Regions from separate parts of the Homo sapiens genome. Here region 2 is linked to region 1. Evidence: fine-mapped expression QTL. Tissue or cell type: skeletal muscle. Region 1 holds a variant in brackets; the other region holds the start of a gene. All regions are shown on one strand. Distances are from middle to middle.

Region 1 (2,763 bases):
TCCCAGGTTTAAGCGATTCTTGTGCCTCAGCCTACTGAGTAGCTGGGATTACAGGCACCCATGACCATACCTGGCTAATTTTTGTATCTTTAGTAGAAGCAGGGTTTCACCATGTTAACCAGGCTGGTCTCAAACTCCTGACCTCAGGTGATCTGCCCACCCCAGCCTTGCAAAGTGCTGGGATTACAGGCGTGAGCCGCCGCGTCTGGCCTGAGTTGACTTTTAAAAGGTGGTTTTAACTCCAGGGACTGACTCCTCAACACCATCCTATGATGTGATGGAAAAATCTTAAGCCAACATTGAAGGTTCTCCAAGCTCTGGTCCCAATATGTCCTTCAATCTTTATCTTTCCCTTACCCAGAACTAAGCTATAGCCAACCACTCTGCTTGATGTACCTCAGATATTACTTGTAATTGTTTTCCTCCATGCCTCCATTCATGCTGTTCTTCATACTGAAATATCCTCCAATCTCAACGTTATCCAACCCCAATATCCTTCAAGGCCCACTTCAAATTCAAATTTCTTACTTTTTAAAGGAGGGGTTATGAAGCTTTTCTTTTTTTTTTTTTTTTTTTTGAGACAGGGTCTCACTCTGCCTCCCAGGCTGGAGTGCAGTGGTGCAATCTCGGCTCACTGCAACCTCCACCTCCCAAGTTCAAGTGATTCTCTTGCCTCAGCCTCCCAAGTAGCTGGGATTATAGGCATGATGCATGACCACGCCCAGCTATTTTTAGTATTTTTAGTAGAGACGGGGTTTCACCATGTTGGCCAGGCTGGTCTTGAACTCCTGACTTCAGGTGATCCACTTGCCTTGGCCTCCCAAAGTGCTGGGATTACAGGCATGAGCCATTGTGCCCGGCCTATGAAGCCTTTCTTGATCCTTCCAATAGTAGGTGCTCTCTCCTGTCTTTGAAACCCCACAAAGACTTGTTGGCTTTTCTCTCGTGGTACACGTACCATTTGCCCCTGCATTACAGTTGGGTCATATCTTTTTCTCAAGATAATAATCTTTGACATCAGAAACTATATTATTCATCTATATTGCCAAATAAATGGAAGGTATTCAGTAGATTATTCTGACAGGACAAATACGAAAAGGACAATCTAGGACATAGAACTATATGAACAATGGTGCTAAGTTAGGAATATTTCTGACTTATGCCTCAAATGGGGACTATTCCAGTTTGACTTTTGAATGTAAGGTTTAGTTGGTAGAATCAGAGGCGTTGAGCTTGGAAGGTAGGTTGGAGTCAGATTACACAGAGCCTTGAATGCCAAGGTAATAAACAGCATAGATTCGGTTCTCCATGAGAGTCACTGATAGTTTTGGGCACTGGAGAGTAACAGGATCTGAGGTATAGAAGGTCAAACCAGAAGTCTCCTTGGAATTTGGTTGGAGATTAAGTCCATCCCAGACAGAAAAACCAACTCTTAAGTGTACTGACAAAATTAAGTGCATGACTCTGTAGATCTGTGAGTCCCAAAAAAGTCACCAAGTTAAAGACTGTTTTGTAGGCTTCCTGGCAACCAGACATTTACGTTCCCACTTCAGTAAAAGGAGACAGACCCACACCAAAGCAGTTATTACTAAATTTCCAAACTGGTGAAACAGAGAAGATTCTATATGCTTCCAGAGAAGGGAGAGAGGAGCAAAAAAAAAAAGTACAGTACACACAAAGGAGGTGT[A/ATGTGTG]TGTGTGTGTGTGTGTGTGTGTGTGTACACATACATGTACATACATACAGATTGAGTATCTCTTAACAGAAATGCTTGGGACCAGGAGTTTTTTAGATTTTGGATTTTTTTTTAATTTGGAACACCTGAATTATACCATTGAGAATCCCAAATATGAAATTCTGAAATCCAAAATGTTCCAATAAGCACTTCCTTTGAACATCACGTTGGTGCTCAGAAAGTTTTGGATTCGGGGGCATTTCAGATTTCAAATTTTTCAGATTTAGGATGCTCAATCTGTATATGTATATATAAATTACAGTATGTGTATGTATGTAAGTGTATGTATGTATATACATGTGTACATGTATACATGTGTGTATATACGTGTGTATATATGTGCATGTGTATATGTGTATGTATATGTGTGTGTATATGCATATATGCATATATGTAGATGTATATGTGTGTACATATGTATATGCATATGCATATGTATGCATAAATGTGTATGTATGTGTATATATGTATGTGTGTACATATGTGTATGTGTGTGTGCATGTGTATATGTGTATATATGTGTGTATACGTGTATATGTGTATGAACATATATATACATATATGTATATTGTATTAGTCCATTCTCATACTGCTATGAAGAAATACCCAAGACTGGATAATTTATAAAGGAAAGAGGTTTAATTGACTCACAGTTCTGCATTGCTTGGGAGGCCTCAGGAAATTTACAATCATGGCAGAAGGCAACGGAGAAACAGGCACTTTCTTCACAGGGCAGCAGGATGGAGTGAGTGCCAGCAGGGGAAATGCCAGATGCTTATAAAACCATCAGATCTCATTAGACTCACTCACTATCATGAGAACAGCATGGGGGAACAGCCCGATGATCCAGTTACCTCCACCTGGTCCCACCCTTGACACATCGGGATTATGGGGATTACAATTCAAGATGAGATTTTGGGTGGGGACACAGCCAAACCATATCAGTATATACGTGTGTATATATGCATGTATATATGTGTATGTATATGTATATATATATGTGTGTGTGTATATATATGTGTATGTGTAGGCATGTG
Region 2 (2,631 bases), 35 kb after region 1:
GCGATTCTCCTGCCTCAGCCTCCCAAGTAGCTGGGATTACAGGCACCTGCTACCACGCCCGACTAATTTTTGTATTTTTAGTAGAGACGGGATTTCACTATGTTGGCCAGGCTGGTCTGGAACTCGCCCGCCTAGGCCGCCCAAAGTGCTGAGGTACAGGCGAGAGCCACCGCGCCCGGCCCGGCCGACAGTCTTTCTTCTATAATACGATACAAACTAGTAAAGATTTTCTTTTTCCCCTGGCGGAAAAGAGCTGTTAGGCTTCCAGATTTGTTTTTGTGGGTTATTAGACCTCTACTTTTCTTCTTGGTATTTTCCCTCCCTTATCAACTTTGTTTGTTGTCTCAAATAGGCAATGAGGAAGACACAGGTGTTTATTATTATTGGAATGCTCTTTCCATTTGGTCAGTGGTTTCTCAAAGCAGGAGGAATTCAAGTTCTGAGTTTCTAAAGTCAGGACCCGGTGCCGCACCCAACGTGGGCGTGGGGAGTGGCTAAGTCAGGGTCTGAGGGGCAGGGCCGGGGCCTGGCTGCGAGCTGGGGCCGGGGGACTCGGAGGAGCGGGGACCCAGCCCCGCCGCGCCGCCTGCAGCTTTCCCCAGCCTCCTCCCAGCAGAGGGGAGGCCCGACAGGGAGGGGTCCCATCCTCATGAACGGTCACAAACAGGGCGCTAGGGAAGCACGCCCGACCCCCGCGGTCCCCGCGCTCCAGGATTCGGCAGACTGCGCGCGTCCTGCCTCCCGCGGATCGCACTGGGTCCCAACAGGGTTCCCAGCTCCAGGCTGCGCCCATGAACAAGCCCAGCATTGCGGACGGGCGCGCGCAGACGCCAGCGTGGTGAAGACGCGGGGGCGCGCGCGCGGCGACGAGACTGCCAGGGGACGCTTCGCAACACCGAGAGTCTCAGCGTTTCTCGAGATAGGTGAGGCTGCGCGTTCCGGAACTGGTTTCCCGGAAGGAGCATGTCTGCGCCCGCGATCCGACCGGAAGTTGCACGCTGAGCCGCGGACACCATGCAGTCGGATGATGTGAGTCTCCTCCGGTTGTTCTTACACCCGGGGTTTGCGCAGGGAATTTTGCCCATTTTCGGACACTTAGAAAACGCGTACGCAGCGGGTCTGTTGCCTCGTGCCGCTCTGGATGTGAGGCTTCCGGAACCCCGATTTTCCAACATAGGTTCTCACGCGTGTCTAGCAGGGGTTTACTGCCCGCTGCCCCGGCCGGGTTGTGAGCACAGGACTCCGTCACCTCAGCCCATGGGGTCGATGTGTCCCGTCCTTCGTGCCTACCAATGCAGGACGTCGCGTCATGCTGTCAGCTGTCAGCTGTCAGCTCCGGACTTGGGGTGGGGGGCGGCCCGGGATTTGGCGAAGCTGACTCCAAGTTTAAGCGTCCTTCTCATCCATGTGCGCGTTACTCTTCCATCTGCGTTTCCTGTGTAGGCTTTTCTTTACATTTGCTCTACTTCTGCCTAAGTCATAATTTCGGAAGTATCCTAGATTCATTCATTGAGTTTTTTGTTGGAGAAATAACAGTGTGCTTACAGTGTGCCAGGCATTGTGGTAATTATTGAGGATTTGGTTAACCAGAAAAAATGTCCCACCTCTCCTGGAACACTGATGGGGGAGACACAGTAAACAAGTGAACAAATAAGTTAACAATTACACTATATAATCATACTATGAAAGAAAGACCAGAGATGATGAAGGACACTTCAGATAGGGTTACTCAGGGAAGGTTTCTCTGAACAGAAGATGTTTGAGTTGAGATCTAAAAGATAAGAATAAGCCAGTCACTGAGGAGCTGAGGAAAAAGCAATCCAGGCAGTAGGAACAGTAAAGTACAAAGAGTTGAAGATATGAGAGAATGAATATAAGGGTCATCAAAGTGACAATGTAAGACAGGTAATGAAATTAGATATGCTTGCCAGGGCGAGGTCATGCAGAATCTTGTAGGAAGTGTTTTTTAGGCCTTTTAATGATCTATGTTTGTGAAAAGTTGTCTAGTTGCTGTGTGAAGGACTTTTGGAGGGAAAAAATGAAAGCAAGGAGACTAGGGTATGACAAAGGTTGCTTCAAGCCAGACACAGTGGCTCATGCCTGTAATCCCAACGCTTTGGGAGGCTGGGGCTGGAGGATCGCTTGAGGCCAGGAGTTCGATTCCAGCCTAGGCAATAAAGTGAGACTCCATCTCTACAAAAAATAAAAAATTAGCTGGGCGCGGTGGTGTTCGCCTGAGGTCCCAGTTACTTCGAAGGCTGAGGCAGAAGGACTACTTGAGCCGAAAAGTCCGAGGCTGCAGTGAGCTATGATGGCACCACTGCACTCCAGCCTGGGTGACAGAGAGACCCTATCTCTAAAGTAAATAAATTTTTTTAAAAACGAAAGTGGCTTCGCCTAAGGTAGTAATTTAATGGTGGAGATGAAAAGAAATTGATGAATTTGAGACCTTTTACGTCAGTATAATTGACAAGACTTTGGTGATGGATTAAGTGAAGAAGAAAAGGAAGAAATCAAAGGATTTGGGATATAAATACATAGTTAAATGGTGATTTTATTTATTGAAGTGGGGGAACTCTAGGGAAGACTGTTCTTACGAGGGATGTGGAATTGAGAACTCCTTGTGGATAT

The links. PIP is the estimated chance that this variant, and not a neighbour inherited with it, causes the effect.
Region 2: MAK16 starts here. The variant in region 1 is fine-mapped to the expression of MAK16 in skeletal muscle (FUSION, PIP 0.95).

What each region holds. Positions count from the first base shown.
Region 1 is chr8:33,449,379-33,452,141 of GRCh38, forward strand. The region is part of intron 3 of POFUT3 (protein O-fucosyltransferase 3); the gene reads right to left. Among named protein-coding and RNA genes, the nearest start is that of POFUT3, 22 kb to the right of the region's middle. The variant A/ATGTGTG (reference allele first, on the strand shown) is at 1,688.
Region 2 is chr8:33,484,193-33,486,823 of GRCh38, forward strand. MAK16 (MAK16 homolog) reads left to right here and starts at 990. Exons shown (of 10, transcript NM_032509.4): 1 at 990-1,029. The coding sequence starts at 1,015. RefSeq lists enhancers at 146-782, 770-919 and silencers at 410-599, 810-997.